Regions from separate parts of the Homo sapiens genome. Here region 1 is linked to region 2. Evidence: fine-mapped QTL for protein levels in blood plasma. A gene starts in region 2. The other region holds a variant in brackets. All regions are shown on one strand. Distances are from middle to middle.

Region 1 (8,000 bases), 2.9 Mb after region 2:
AATAGATGATCGTTGAACTAACTGTGGCTTGCAACAATCAAACCACTCTTTCATATATACTTAAAGGAAAAAATGGCATTATTTGGGACAGACTGGAAGACTGTGGAGGCTGGAAGGAGAAGGGGGTGAAAATTACATTCTTGGCCACGTTTTCCACACAACCCATTCCTGAACCCCTTTCCACAGACAATTTGGAAATGTGCATTCAATAAAACCCCTGTCGCAATTGCAGAGAAGCAGAGGGTAGAAGAGATCGGGCTTGGAGTCAGCATCTGGGAAACCTTGTATAATTTTGGCCTTGCCATAAACCAGCAGAATGACCTCGGGCAAGTTTACTTTTCCGATTATTAGTGTCCTTATCTGTAAATTGGTATCAATCATTCTATCTTGCAGGATTACCTGAGTGGTTAGTGATAAATATACAAAGAACCTAGCGTAATAGCTGGCACATAGTAGGTGCTCATAAAAAATAATTATTGCTGTATTGCTACCTTTATAACTAGTGTTGACAGCTTCTGGATTCGACCTGGTGAGGAAAGGGGATAAATATAGAAGACGTTTATGAATTTGTTTTTTAATCTATTTTACTCTTTAATTATTTAATATTTAACTGGTTAATTATTCATAGTCAAACAGAAGGCTTAATAAAAATGTGCTTATTAAACAATAATTTGCTTCCTTAACTCCCTTCACCACTAAAGCAGCATGTCCATAAAGGGAAGGAAGAATGCTATCTCAGGGTCTGGAATTTTTCTTCAAAGGGATAGTTACTAGAAATCAGCATACATCCTCTTTCTAGTTTGGGGCTCTACAGATTAGAAGCTTTGCCCTCATGCTATAGACTACCCTTGCAGGCACCAGCTTGGGTAGTATAGGAGGTGTTAGGCAAGCTGGGAGTGTAGCGGGAGGCTACCTGGCTATGATGACAGGGCAGTGATTACTGTCCAGGCAGGTGGCTGAGCAAGGTGACAAGCCTGGGCAAGAATAAACCCTGGAAACTACTGGGGCCAGGATCAAAGTTCCCGGTCAGGTGGGACTTCTGGTTTACCAGAGGGAAGGTTAGGACAATCCTGCCGAAGGCACATGCCTTTCTCCCTTTCAAATGTTTCCCAGCTAAACCACTTCCAAATGAGCAGGCTTCTACTAACTTTATGCAAGTATTTTTCTCAGTTTTGAGAGGTGATTTATAAATCACTGAATGGCATTGCCCTAGGACAGCAGGGATGTCTCTGGGTCTTAAGGATGAATGTGAAGGCAGGATGACTTTATAGGAAACAGAAAATGTCTACTAACATGCTCCAGATATTGACAGTAAAATCCAGAGGCTGGAGGAAAGCTGGTTAGCCTTGGAAAAACCATCTTTTCTTTTTCTTTTCTTTCTCCTTTTTCAGAAATAAGGTTAAACTATCCTTAAGAATAAGAAGGAAAATATTAAAACATTCCCCCCCAAAAGTTCATAGATCTTCAAGAAAAGAGAAGTTAGGACCAAAATATAAACAGGATGACAACTGCTTTTATTTGAAGAAAATAGAGTTTTCTAGAAGACTGAATCAGTATAGCCTGATAAAGTGCTTATCCATTGGGAAAAGATATTCTATGGGAGCAAACAAATAAAGATAAAAGAGGAAGACATTAAATTAATAATGGCTAAAGAAGGTGAGAGCCTGAACTCACTTGCTAAATGTGTCTTTAAAGAGGGAGCCAACATGATCTCACAAGAGTCTCTATGAGAAGGTGAGAAGGAAGGTTCTTAGTACTCAAGGGCGAATAGGCAATCTACAAATTTCAGACCAATGTTTTTATCCCTTGATGTTCACTGACAACACAGACACAGTTCCCTGTTTTGAAAAGAGGTCTAACAATCATGCTGAACAGTCTGAGACTTAATAGAGCCAATCAGTTCAGTTTCTATTAGTGCACCTGTACACTCAGGCATGCGTTCAACCAAACACACATTTAGACACTCAGACTACTCTAGGTCTTGGGAAACAAAGCAGAATACAACAGACATGGCCCCTGCTCTCAGGAGGTGTAAGCACCATGAGAGGAGAGAAGCAATAAACAATGAACAAATACATGTAAACGCAACAGATCTATATTCGAACAGTTGCTGCATGGTTCTGATGGGTCTAATTAGCATTTTGGCAAAGAAGAAGCATGAGAAGGGCATGGATTCTGTGTCAGACATTTGAGGGGCTGGCTTGTGGAAATGACATTATGTGTGGTTTAAAGCTACAGGGAAGATTTTGGTTTTAATAAACTTCCTAACAATTTCTGTCACTAAACATTCCACAGGTGTTTTGTGCTAAGCACTGTTCCAGGTGGCTACATTCTGGTAAAATGAGGTAGACAGTAAACATGTATATGACACTATGTAACATCACACGTTGTAACCCAAAGCAGCATAATTTGGCATAATGTAATATAACATAGTAACCATTAAAGCTGTGCATCAGTAAACTGGCCATCACCATCAGTGAAATGGTGAGCTGCAGCTGGGTGCGGTGGCTCACGCCTGTCATCTCAGCACTTTGGGAGGCCGAGGCGGGCGGATCACGAGGTCAGGAGATTGAGACCACGGTGAAACCCCATCTCTACTAAAAATACAAAAAATTAGCTGGGTGCGGTGGCAGGCACCTGTAGTCCCAGCTACTCAGGAGGCTGAGGCAGGAGAATAGCATGAACCCGGGAGGCGGAGCTTGCAGTGAGCTGAGATTGCGCCATTGCACTCCTCGAGGCATTTGGGATCACAAGCAGAGTGGGATGTCTCTGGGAATCCCCAGCCTGGAGCAGCTTCCTCTGACTTTGGTGGAGCCACATGCAGGGCTCAGGGCAACTTCTGCTCTCTATTCTTAACCTTCCTTAATTGTTGTGTCTCAATATTTTCAGTCTCAATTCCTGACTCAATGAAGTTCTTAATTTCATATGTGATCCCTGGTGGGTTTGGGACACATGATTTCATTTTAGTTTTTAATTGAAAAAGTATTTATTGAAAAAGTATTTCCATAATATTTTCTGCTTAAATAACATATGCTTCTGGTTAAAAAGTTAAACATTGCAAAAAAAATAGCAAATGCAGGAGAGTGAAACCCCCCAGGATCCTAACACCTGCAGATAATGTCAATGGTGACCAGTGTTAAGCACTGGGTACTTATCTGATTTTTATATACATGCACTAAGATGGGGATTATATTAATATATGTATATTTAATGAGGTCATACTGTTTGGTGATATACTCTTTTTCACTGAGCATCTTTCCCAACACAACATACAAATGGGTCTTCTTTTTTGCAGTTATTATTTTGGATTG[G/C]TTCATCTTAAAAGTCTTTCTACCTAAGAATAGTTTACACACCATAGTTACAGTGTTGCAATATTCTGTTTTTCTGTGTACTTACTGTTACCAGTGAGTTTTATGCCTTCAGTTGATTTCTGGCTCATTAATGTCTTTTTCTTTCAGATTAAATATCTCCCTTCAGCATTTCTTATACGACAGGTCTGGTGTTGAGGAAATTCCTCAGCTTTTGTTTGTCTTAGAAAGTTTTAATTTCTTCTTCCTGTTTGAAGGATATTTTCACCAGATACACTATTCTGGGGTAAAAGTTTTTTTTCCTTTAGCACTTTAAATATGTCACGCCACTCTCTCCTGGCCTGCAAGGTTTCCGCTGAAAAGTCTGCGGCCAGATGTACTGGAGCACCATAGTATGTTACTTGTTTCTTTTCTCTTGTTGCTTTTAGGATTTTGTATCTATCCTTGACCTTTGGGAGTTTGATTATTAAATTTCTTGAGGTAGCCTTCTTTGGGTTAAATCTCCTTGGTGGTCTCTAACCTTCTTGTCCTTGGATATTGATACCTTTCTCTAGGTTCCGTTATTATACCTTTGAATACACTTTCTCCCTATCTATTTCTCTCTCTGCCTCCTCTTTAAGGCCAACAATTCTTAGACTTGCCCTTTAGAGGCTATTTTCTACATCTTATACCTGTGCCTCACTGTTTTTTATTCTTTTTTTCTTTTGTCTTTGCCGATCATACATTTTCAAACAGCCTGTCTTCAAGCTCACTAATTCATTCTCCTGCTTGATCTGTTTGGCTATTAAGAGACTCTGATGCATTCTTCAGTATGTCAGCTGCATTTTTCAACTCCAGAATTTCTGCTTGATTCTGTTTAATTATTTCAATCTCTTTGTTAAATTTATCTGATAGAATTCTGAATTCCTTTTCTGTGTTACCTTGAATTTCTTTGAGTTTCCTCAGAACAGCCATTTTGAATTCTCTGTCACATACCTCTGTTTCTCCAGAATTAGTCCCTGACACCTTATGCCTTATCTAGTTCATTTGGTGAGGCTGTTTTCCTGGATGATGTTGATGCTTGCAGATGTCACCGGTGTTTGGGCACTGAATAATTAGGTCCTTATTGTAGTCTTTGCAGTCTGGGCTTGTTTGTAGCTGTCCTTCTTGGGAAGGCTTTCCAGGTATTTGAAATGACTTGGGTGTTGTGACTGACACTGTATCTGCATTAGGGGGCACCCCAAGTCCAGTAACATTGTAGTTCATGCAGACTCACAGAAGTACTGCCTTGGTGGTCTCGGATAAGATCAGGAAGAATTCTCTGGAATACCAGACAGAAACTCTTGTTCTCTTCCCTTACTTTCTCCCAAACAAATGGAGTCTCTCTTTCTCCCTGTGCTGAGCAGCCTGGGGCTGGGGGTGGGGTGACATAAGCACCCCTGTGGCTACCACGACTGGGACTGTGCTGGGTCACACCTGAAGCCAGCACAACACTAAGTCTTACCCAAGGCCACTCCCTGGCTACAGCCTGTATTTGCTCAAGGCCCTAGGGCTCTATGATCGGCAGACGGTGAAGCCAGCTGGGTTTGTGTCTTTCCCTTCAGGGCAGCGAGTTCCCCCAGCTGGGTCCAGAGATGCTGTCTAGGAGCCAGGGACTGAAGATAAAAACCTTAGAAATCTACGTGGCCTTCTATTCCACTCTGGCTGAGCTGGCACTCCAACTGTAAGCCACAGTCCTTCCCATGGTCCCCTCTCCTTTCCACAGGCAGAAGAGCCTCATCCCAAGGCCACGACCACGACAGGCCCACAGGGATTACTGCCAGGCCACTGCCGATGTTAACTTAATGCCCAAAGGCCCCTCAGTCAAGTCGTGGTGAGTGCTGCCTGGCCTGGGACTCACCCTTCAGGGCAGTAGACTCCCCTCTGGCCCAGGGAAGGCCCAGAGATGGTATCCAACAGCCAAGGCCTGGAATCAGGGACACCAAGAGCCTGCTTAGTGCTCTACCCTGCTGTGGCCAAGCTGGTACCTAAGGTGCAAGACCAAGTCCCTTTTACTTTTCCTTCTGCTTTTCTAAGCAGAAGGAGTCTCTCACTATAGCCACCACAGTTGGGAATGTGGTGGGTCTCACCTGCAGCCAGCAGTCTCAGAGTCTCACCAAGGCCCATGGCATATGACCTGGGTATCACTGCTGGTTATTCAGGGACCAAGGGCTCTTTAAGTCAGCAAGAGATGGATCTTGCCAGGACTTGGTCCTTCCCTTCAAGGCAGTGTCTCCTTCTGGCCCAGGGTGTCTCTCTAGAAATGTTTTCTGAGAGGTACGGCCTGAAAATGGGGCCTCACAGCTCTGACTGGTACCCTATCCCTCTGTGGCTGAGCTGATAACCAAGATGCAAGACAAAGTCCTCTTTACTCTTGCCCCTCCTGTCCTTAAGCAGAAGGAAGGGGTCTCTTTTGAAGCTGGGAGCTTTGTTGCCTGGGTTTGGAGGAGGGGTAGTGTAAGCACTCCCTATTCACAATAGCAAAGACATGAGATCAACCCAAAGGACCATCAGTGGTAGACTGGATAAAGAAAATGTGTACATATATACCACAGAATACTACGCAACCATAAAAAGGAACAAGATCACGTCCTTTGCAGGAGCATGGATGGAACTGGAAGCTGTTCTCCTCAGCAAACTAATGCAGGAACAGAAAACCAAACACTGCATGTTTTCACTTATAAGTGGGAGTTGAACAATGAGAACACATGGACACATGGATGGTGGGGAAAAACACATACTGAGGCCTGCCATGGGGGATCATCAGGAAGAACAGCTAATGGATACTGGGCTTAATATCTGGGTGATGAGTTGATCTGTGCAGCAAACCACCGAGGTACACGTTACCTATGTAATAAGCCTGCATATCCTGCATATGTATCCCAGAACTTAAAAAATGAAGAAGAAAAAAAAAAAAAAACCAGAGCAATTCACACTCAACAGCATGCCAGGGAAGATGTCTCAGCCCTGGTGTCCTGACAAGAGCAGTTTCTGAATAGGAAGAAGGCTGGCACAAATGGATACAGCAACACATTCTAGAGATGCAAAGTTCCAACAAAAGCATTTTAAAGGTCACCTTGTTTATATAATATTTATGTTTTAAGACCTTATGATTCCCCCAATATTTCAAAGCTCTCAGAGACAAAAGAATAACATGGTATAAAGAAGTGGAACTCGGAATGAGGAGACGTGGACTCTGGTTTCAGAGCCACAGGAAACTGTGGAATCTGGAGGTGAAGACAACCCCAGGAAGTGACGTATTTCTAAATTTTCTGATGAGGACACCCGGCCCCAAGAAGTTCTGTGAGCTGCCCAAGGCCTCTCAGTCACTTGTGATACAGCCAGAATGCAGGGCAGGGGCCACTGTGTCCTTCTATGTTCCTTCAGTCTGCAAAACAGCGATAAGAATAGCTAATTGGGGTTTTCTGAGAAGTTACTGTATTGGAAACCATAAATATGTCATTTAATGAAGAACAATGAGCTTCGGCAGGATTTCTTAAGTGTGAATGCAATCGACATGCGGTATTCCTGCCTTCTTGGTTCTCTCGTCTCATACTCAACTCTGGTCCCCTTTCCCATCCTCCACCTCAGAAAACAAGAAGTGGGACAAAATAGGAAAGGAGAGAAGAGGAAGAATAAACAAGAAGTGGGACAAAATAGGGAAGGAGAGAAGAGGAAGAAAAGAGTGACGATGAGCCCCGGGCGAGGTGGCAGGGGCCTGAGAGGCAGGGAAGGCAAATGGGGAGCTTTGTTCTGACCAGGCCGTGTGCTTGGTCTGTGGGGCCTCTGGCTTCCCATGGGTGAGTCCTGTGAGAAGAACTGTGATAGTCTAAGTGTCTGCCAAAAGAAGGGAGTGAATTAGATGCAACCCATTCCACCCTGCCTCAGGAACAATGTACACACAAATACATGTCAGGATTCTCTCTGAACTTTACACAGAAATTGCCTGGCTATGTTCAGCTCTTCTCAGGGAGAGAAACAGAAAGTATTTGCTCTGGAAATCTTGTATCAATATATAACCAAGATCTTAATGTTTTCAGACTTGCCCCTTCCTTTTTCTAGCATTTGTTTTTTCTTCTGTATCTCCTCAGGAAGATATGGTGGCAATTAAAAGAAAAATTATTCTGAACAGCCTGAAGTGATATGGCTAAGCCTAGCACCACTTTTATTTCAGAGTTAAACAACCATGACTTAATTCTCAAATTGCTTCCCAACCCTGGGAAGTTAAGGTCCTAGTCTCCGGCTAATTCTAGAACCATCTATCATTAAATGAAGTTGAACACAAAGAAGGGGCGACTGCAGCTAAGGGAAAGGCCGTCAATCCTGACACCAGATTAATCTTCCCCAAATGCCTTTCCTGCCTGAGAGGGTTTGTGGCTGCTTGTTAGACTAGATCCAAGTTCTCAGCCTTGTCTCAGGCCTGCCTGGCCATTGAGTGTCTCACATGCTTCCCACCATTCCTCATGGGAGCCTGGGTTCAGACCGGCCAGGTTCCCACTCCCGTTCACAGGAAGGAGGCTCTGCGACTTTCACCTGCAGGCTCTGCTCACCCGTTGTCACTTCCCCATCCACATCCTACCCTTCTATCACATCTTCCTTCAAGAAGACTCACACTGTTCAGGAAACACCTGCTCACTGCCTCCTTAAGTTCCTTTCTCTAAATGTCTACAGTGT
Region 2 (8,222 bases):
CAGAATGGAAGCCCCAAACCACCCCACTACACAGAATTCAGTAAGTGCCAGAGAGGAGAGGAATGCCGCATGCTGACCCCAACCAGAGGGCAGGCCCCGGATGCCCAGCAGCACTTCTGTGGGGGCAGCCAGGCTGAGGGACCACCTAGCCAAGCACAGCCCCTCTGGGCCTTGCCCTCTGGCAGGCCCGACTGCCTCCCACTGCCCCACCTCTCACCGCTCCTTGCAGCTCCAGGGCCTCCATGCTGAAGGCAAACAGGGCCTCTCGGGCGCCCACGTACAGAAGCCCAGTGGGCTCCGTCAGCGTCAGTGTCAGGAAGTCCTGGATGCCGGTCTGGGAGAACCGCCGTACTACCGTGGCCAGCTCTGCAGGGGTAAGCATGGCTGCTGATGGGCAGGACCCCTGGGGCTCGACAGCCCTCAGTCTTGCTCCACGAGAGCCAGCACCCCATGCCACAAGCAGATGCCAGCCAAACCCCCTGATTGGCAATAAAGGACACTTTTGAAACAGCCTTTGGCCCTGACAGCCCCACCTGGGCCTCCCTAGCCTTTCCCAGCCTGGGAGGAGGCAAATCCAGGCTGCTGGGAGGAAGGAAGGATATCTCAGCCACAGCTTCCGGCCAGAGGAAGCCATCAGACTGATGGCTCTTGCTCTCAGGGTCAATGGCACCTCCGGCCGCAGGGCTGGGCACCCCCACCCCACCTTCGCTTCCTCGGCGGCTGCTTCCTTCTTTGCCCTGCTGCCCACTGCCTCTATCAGAGTCCAGCAGAGCAGGAGGCACAGACGGCTATGAGTACTCCCTGCCTCAGGAAACCCTTCACTCCAGCAGGACCCCAATCCAGGCTGCCAGAGATGCGAGCACAGCAGGCCACTAGGACAGGTGGGGATGGCAGGAGGGGAGCTGGGCTGTGAGCCAGGCCAGGGAGGTCCGGAGAAACCAGAGGCTCAGAGAGCGGAGATGGGGCTGGGGCCTGGGAAGTCTTGCTGCCACCCGGCATGCAGGGCACTACGACATTTATACAGTCACGTGATTCCTACATCAGCTGCCAAATATGGCTGCCGACCTGTCCTCAGGGTCCCCCCAAACCAGCCTTAGTCTTTGCAGGCAACAATGGATCCAGACACAGACCGGCATGGCAGGGCTTCACTGGCACCCGAGTGGAGCCTGTGGGAGGTGAGCTCATCCCAGGTCCCCAGAGCGCACGGCTGATACAAACACCTGACATCACCTTTCACACGGGTGTGTGCACAGGGAGCACTGCTGGGTCCCCGCTGTGCCCCGGCAACCATGCGAGCATGTGCACATACACACACACTTCCAGGGCCACCAGAGTGTATGATGTGTACAGGGCAGTAGGAGGTCTTAGGGGGGCCTGGGGAGCCAGGGGAGAGAGCCTCCAGTTTATATTTATCCCGGTTCCAGTTTCTCTTTAGGCTCCCAGCGCCAGTGACAATTCAAGAAGCGAGGCGTGGAGAGGGCGAGGCAGAAGGCTCTCCCCCTCCCACACCTGGGCAGGCAGTCTGGGGTGGGGAGTTGGACAGAGCTCCCCCAGAGGAGGCTAATCCCAGGTCCCAACCCACACTGCCCGTTCTTCCAACTCGAGTTTCTTAGAAAGCTGTGCCACACACGTGAGAATAAAGCCAGCACACTATGGGGGCAACTCCTCAGCAGCCTGTCCCTGACTTCCTCCTCACCCCTCCAGGCACTCACCCCCAGAAGACACTGTCTTACGCGGCACAAGGTTCCACCACACCTCAGCCCCAATGCCCAGGCCCCACAGCCTTGCTGCCAGCAGCCAGACAGCCCAGTGTGGGGCCATGGCGCACGCCCCGGCTCTGAGCTTCAGGCCAGCTGTCCTGCTGAGGGAAAAGACATGGTCAGAAATCACAGCCAGAGAAAGCAAACCAGAGGGGCCCGCAGCAGGAGAGGCCACAGGACTCCTCATCAGGCCTTCCAGGAGCCCCGGTGCCCTCCTTCCCCTTCTCTTTGGAGGTGGACCTAAGTCCCCACACTTGGCCTCTGCCTAAAAGACCACAGGTCTCCCTGGGAAGCGGGGAGGAGTTGAGTTGGCTGAAGGCTAAACAGGCTCCGGGAAGCCCTCCCTGGCCTCCAGACCCACCACTACCTCTGCGCAACAGGAAATCATTTGAGAAATAAAAAGGGGACCCCCGCCCAACATACACACTCAGGCCTAAGAGGTTTGAGTTTCTTGAAAGAACCTCAGGCAGCAGGCCTTGCAGCCACTGGGGCTCCGGACCCTGCCAACACCTAATTCTGGGAGGAAGACTCCTTAGGGCGACGAGGGCATGCGGTGGGGTAGGCGGTCGGGAAAGCCCCAAAGGGGAAACCTGGTGCGGCCGGCTGCGAGCGGAGGTCCCGGTCCCGGCCTGTCCCCTTCCCCAGCGCAGACAATAGCCCTGCAGAACCCCAAACCCCGTTCCACATCAGCAGGGCAGGAGTGTGAGAAGGGCCGGGAGCGAAGGGGCCCAGCTTCCCGAGGCCCCTTTGTTGCCCAAGAGGGAGGCAGGAAGTGGGTGGGATGGGCGTGGAAATGACCAGGGCCTCATCCTGTTCCTCGCACTGCCTCCTCCGAAACACCAGCCCTCTGGCGGAGGGGCGGTGGGGGGACCGAGCTCGGGTCGAGTCGGGGACTCCGGCGGCGCGCGCAGGCGACGGGGGGAGGTAGGGGCGGGGACGCGAGGGGGTTCCTCCCGGGCCGCTGGCAACGCGCCGCGCACGGCCGGCACCCGCTGCGCTCCCGCGACTCTGACGAACCTTCCCAACTCGGGGACTGCGCCCCAGGGACCCTGGCCTGGGCGGGCCAGCGGGATTGGCTTCCCCTGCTCCAGCCTTCCCGTGCCAGGGGCGGAGACGCAGAAGCTGGGGACCTGCTCACCCCCAAACAAAGGGTCCCCGCCAAGACCCCGTCCCGGGTCCCCCCGGGTTCTCCCCTCCCCCAGCTCCAGGGATTTGAACGCAAACAAAGCGGCGGCGCGGGGAGCGTGGCGAGCCCGGCCTGCGGACGCCCCCTGTCGGCCCAGAGCCCCGGCGCGGGAGAGCGGGGGCTGCGCCCCAGACCAGCCCCCCAAAACGCCCGCGGCCTCATCTCGGCTCCTTACCCGAGGATCGGGCCGCACCCCGTGGCGTGCTCCGAGGATCCGCCCGGCAGCGGTGCTCCCACCCGCAGCTCCCCCCAGGGCGAGGAAACGGGCAGCCGGGAGGAGGGGTTGGGGGGAGGGGTGCGGGATCCAGGCGGGGCACCCCACACCCTCGCCCACCCCGAGCGGCCAGCCGTGGACCGCGGCCCTCCCTGCAGGGCGAGCGCTCCAGCCGGGGACGGCGCGGCCCGGCTCGGCCCGGGGGCCTGGCTTTCCGGGACAACCCGCCTCCCCAGCGGAATGGGCGGGCGGGCGGGGGGCCGCGGCAGGGAAATCCGATCCCACAACATCGGCCTCCCTCCAAGCCCGCCCCAAACTTTCCATCGGGGGTGGGAGCGCCGAGGGCAGTCCAGGAGCCTGGCGAGGATCCCGGCCGCGGACCGGACCGCGCGAGGAACCCTCGCTGGCGCGCCCCTCCGGCCCCGGGGCTGCGGGGCTGCAGGTGCTGTGCGCCCCACTCCCGAGACCCTGCGAAGCAGCCGCGGGGGTCGCAGGAAGGATCCCCGCGTACAGCCGTCTCCGCCGCCGCGGCTCCCCGCGCCCCAGCCCCTGTCCCTCCCGCGTCCGGCAGCCCCTGCCCAAGCAAAGGGACAAAGCGGCGGCTCCGGGGCCCCGCGGCTCCAGCCTCACGCAAGCCCGGCCTCGCTCACCTATTGCGCGCAGCTCCAGTCCCCGGGCGCCGCCCTCGCGTTCGGCTCTGACCGCCGTCCACCCCTGCCCCCGCGTCGCCGCCTGCCCGCGCTCGCCCGCCAGCCCTCCGCGGCCTCTCTGCCACCGCCCCTCCGTCCCCGCCCGGCTCCGCGCCCCTAGGCTCGGGCTCCCCGCGCCACCACGGCGGGCGCCGGCTCTTTCTCCAGCGCGGCCGCGGCTCTCCGCCCCCTTCCCCTTGACGTCAGGCTGGGGGGGTCGAGCGGAGGCCGGGGGCGGGCCGCGAAGGCTCGCTCAGGAGGGGGCTGCGACCCGCAGCGACCTGTGGACCCGCCCGCTCTCCGCCCGGGGGCTCGGACCTCCGCCTCTCTGGGTGCCCGGACCTCAACCCCTCCGGGTGTCCAGCAGCCCCGGGGCTCGGAGTCGCGGGCTGCGCCACAGCGCCTGGAGGGAGGTGGGGCGGGGGAGGGACTCCGGGTATGGCCACGGGGGAATCACACTCACCCGATCTTTCTGAAGTGTCCCCCGAAGACTCCGGGCGGGCTGGGCTGGGGAGAGGGACTCCCGACCGTGCAGTTGCAGGAACGACCGCGGGCGAGCCACGTCGAGGCGAGTATCCAGGGGAGGCACGCTGGGGGAACCGAGGCGTCTTTTGGGGCGGACCAGAGGGGTCTGCCGTTTGGCCCCCAATTCTGCCTCTTTCTAGGCCCCGAGGACCACTGGTCCCTGCCCTCAAGTCTGGAAAGGGCTTCACCAGCCAGGAAGACCCTTCAATCAACAGAAAGGGCCTGCTCCTGCTTCTCACGCTTTGGGCAAAGCGCCTATCCCCAGAAAATGACTCCTCGTGCCACTGGAAGGCTGATTAACAAGTGGCATGAGCCCTACTGTTCAGATGAAAGGGGCTGTGGGGAGCCACGCTGCAGAACCACCGCCACCTTCAGAACCACCAGCCTCCGCCCACAGCCACTCCTAGAAGCAACTTGTAGCTCTGGCCTCATGGGCGGTGCAGCGTCTTTCCTGCCAGCTGGTCCTCTGAGCTGGGCAGGTGGTTAGAAGAGGTGGTCCTCATGGAGGACACCCCACGGGCACCTGGAGACAGATGCTACCTCCTGGCTAGGGGCAAAAGGCAGAGGTGAAGGGGCTTGACGTCCTGAGGTTTGGAGGTAACTTTAAGCCAGGGTGCAGTCCTGGAGGGGAGGAACACTTCAGGCTGCGTCAGCAGATCTGGATTATAAATCAGTCCGACAGCAGCTTTTGTTCTGGGTTAAAACTTGGCATCTGAAAAGTGGAGACCAGAAAAGTGGTGGAGATAATTGAGAAAAGCAGCCCAGTTTGGTTTCAGTAACAATCGGGTCTTTGCTGGTACACATAATGGCCCCTTCTCCCTTGCTGGCCAAAGCCACGTTTCCCAGCTCTTTTCCACTAGGAAAAAGAAAAAAAGCTGTGGCCTTGGAGATGCTGGAGATAATGACCATGGGGTGGGCAGGGAAGGCCTCCTGCTTCAGCTGACAAGGTGGGAGAAGGTGTGTCACCCTCGTGTTTAGTTTATTCCCCGTATCTATTCAAGCGGAGGGTAAACTGAGATGCAAGTGCCCTCACTTGTGTTCTGTGCTTTAGATTTTTGCAGCTTGTCTTGATGTACATTTTCTTACTTCACCCTTATGACCACCCTTTAAAAAGTAAGTAATTTGGGAGGCTGAGATGGGAGGATCACTTGACCCCAGGAGTTCAAGACCAGCCAGGGCAACATACTGAGACCCTGTCTCTACAAAAGAAATTATTATTATTATTTTTTTTTTGAGACAGAGTCTCACTCTGTCACCCAGGCGGGAGTGCAATAGCGCGATCTCGGCTCACTGCAACCTCCACCTCCTGGGTTCAAGTGATTCTCCTGCTTCAGCCTCCCAAGTAGCTGGAATTACAGGTGCCTGCCACCAGACCTGGCTAATTTTTGTATTTTTAGTAGAGACGGGGTTTCACCATGTTGACCAGGCATGCGCCACCATGCCCAGCTAATTTTTGTATTTTTAGTAGAGATGGGACTTCGCCGTTTTGGTCAGGCTGGGCTCGAACTCCTGACCTCAGGTGGTCCACCTGCTTAGGCCTCCCAAAGTGCTGGGATTAGCCACTACGCCCAGCCCCAAATTAAAAAAAAAAAAAAACTAGCGGGGCGTGGCGGGGAGGGGTGGCTCACGCCTGTAATCCCAGCACTTTGGGAGGCTGAGGCAGGCGGATCACGAGATCAGGAGATCCAGATCATCCTGGCTAACATGGTGAAACCCTGTCTTTACTAAAAATACAGAAAAATTAGCCAGGCGTGGTGGCGGGCGCCTGTAGTCCCAGCTACTCGGGAGGCTGAGACAGGAGAATGGCGTGAACCCAGGAGGCAGAGCTTGTAGTGAGCCAAGATCACTCCACTGCACTCAAGCCTGGGCAACAGAAGGAGACTCTGTCTCAAAAACAAACAAACAAACAAACAAACAAACCAAACTAGCGGGGGCGTGGTGGCATGCATCTGTAAGTCCCAGCTACTCAGGAGGCTGGAGTGGGAGGGTCGCTTGAGCCCAGGAGGTTGAGGCTGCAGTGAGCTGTGATTGTGCCATTGCACTCCAGCCTGTAGAGCGAGACCCTGCCTCGACAAAATTAAAAAAATAAGTATTGTTGCTCCCCTTTTGGAGATGAGTCAAAAAGATTAAACAACTAGCCCCAAGTCATGGAGATAATTAAAAAAGATTAAACAACTAGCCCCAAGTCATGGAGATAATTAAAAAAGATTAAACAACTAGCCCCAAGTCATGGAGATAAAAAGGTCAGAATTTCTTTTTTAGAAACGGGGTCTTACTCTGTTGCCCAGTCTGGAGTGCAATGGCACAGTCATGGCTCAATGTAACCTCAGACTCCTGGGCTCAAGCGGTCCTCCCACGTGAGCCTCCCAAGACTACAGGTGCACACCATCATACACGGGACAGGGTCTCGCTATATTGCTCAGACTGGAAAGTTCAGATTTTTAAATCAGGTCTTGGGACTCCCGATTCTGTTTTTCCACAGAGTCACCATCTATCCTGACAATGCTCCATTTCATGCTGTTTTTCCTCACCTTCAATACTGCTCCCCCATCCCCCCACCTCTAGGTGTGAAGGTTACCAGGAGAGACCTGAGCTCGCTGGCTCTGACTCCAAGGTGGCCTCAGTGGAAAGTTTCAAAAGGCAACCGGTTTGGTTTCACTGGCAGGGCAGCGGCAGGCGTTTGGGTTCTGGAGGCCCAGGAATGTAGAAGCCTCCAGCTAACAGACTCCACGCGCCTATCCTCCCAAACGCTCTCGGAGATAAGCTCCCAGCTCCCTCCCCTTTTCCACCTTCATGCACTTCCTGCTGTATTCTGTCCATTCCAGCACTGGCCCTTTCTGTGGGTGGGTGGGCAGAGGATACAATTTCCTGCATGACTACTTGCTCATGATTCATACTTCTAAATGAAAGTACAACTGATATAAAAAAAAGATTTCTGGGTCTTCAATTAATAAAAAAATTACTAATACAGGTACCGGGGGTGGGGGGAGGTGCACGTACCTGACTAGTCTCCCTAGGGCCTAGCATATCTATGGAAGGTATCCACACTTTGGGACTCAGGCCTTGACAACTGCTTGTGGTCGTGTCAAGGAAAGACACAGAAATTGTGCTAAATGACTCTCAAGGGTCTTCAAAGATCACCCAGCAGCTCAGGCCAGCCCCTAGAGATGACCTAAAGAGTCTTTCCTGAAAAGCAAGTCCCCCTTCCCATCTCTTGATGTTGGTTGGGGGCCACACTGCCCTTCATTTGAGCTACTCACCTACTAGCTCTCCTGAGGCAGCCAGAGGGAGGCCCTGGGTGGACACTGGGTTCTCTGGTGAACGCTGCCTGGTGGATTTCCAAGGCAGCCAGGACTGCCGTCATCCCACAGATGGGGAAGTGAGAAAGCTTGGGTCAGCGCGCCTGGGGACCGAGGTGACTAGGGACATAGGAAAAGGACTCTCCCTCCCTACTTCCTCCAAAGGAGAGTTATCAAAGCTGCCCACCTGGGATGTCTTTCCCTTCCCAGCCCCTCCCTGTCACCAGTACCAAAAGGAAGCAGGAAAACATCCGTCATCACAGCCCCGGATGCGGATTTTCCAGTGGCTCCTATCAGGATATCCCCCAGCCTTTTCCCAAGGGCTTAGGGATCTGGAAAAGTCAAAGATCTGGAGGGCAAGTGGTCACATTGCCAGCACCACTGTGAAAATCTGGACCTTGGGGAGGCTGAGTCTCTAACCGATCCCAGACTAGTTTTAGAAGATCTGGTCAGCTCCCAGCCAGTCCCAGAGAGGGCCCATTACACACCCCAGGGGACAGCATACGCCCTTGGGCGACCTCACAGTGCACACCTCTGCTCGGGTTACAG

Direction of the effects. Alleles are on the strand shown, and positions count from the first base shown. The strength of an association depends on the size of the effect and on how common the allele is.
With allele C in place of G in region 1, the plasma level of the protein whose gene starts at base 4,015 in region 2 is lower (weak association).

Evidence for each region. PIP is the chance, under the fine-mapping model, that this variant and not a neighbour inherited with it causes the effect. Protein levels are from antibody-based Olink assays in UK Biobank. Linkage for the fine-mapping came from a reference panel and not from the study's own genotypes, which makes the PIPs less certain.
Region 1: its variant is fine-mapped to the plasma level of the SEMA4C protein (UK Biobank, PIP above 0.99).

Annotation. Positions count from the first base shown.
Region 1 is chr2:99,765,183-99,773,182 of GRCh38, forward strand. The region is part of intron 8 of AFF3 (ALF transcription elongation factor 3); the gene reads right to left. Among named protein-coding and RNA genes, the nearest start is that of REV1, 280 kb to the left of the region's middle. The variant G/C (reference allele first, on the strand shown) is at 3,312.
Region 2 is chr2:96,866,066-96,874,287 of GRCh38, forward strand. It overlaps SEMA4C (semaphorin 4C), which reads right to left and starts at 4,015. Exons shown (of 15, transcript NM_017789.5): 1 at 3,811-4,015; 2 at 1,713-1,858; 3 at 218-366. The coding sequence starts at 1,821. It overlaps LOC124908044 (collagen alpha-1(I) chain-like), which reads left to right and starts at 2,309. Exons shown (of 3, transcript XM_047446878.1): 1 at 2,309-2,353; 2 at 2,520-2,684; 3 at 2,963-5,058. The coding sequence starts at 2,309. The coding sequence ends at 3,970. RefSeq lists enhancers at 1-604, 7,174-7,674 and silencers at 2,538-3,157, 3,208-3,367, 3,688-3,787, 3,808-3,877, 3,908-4,007 and 1 more.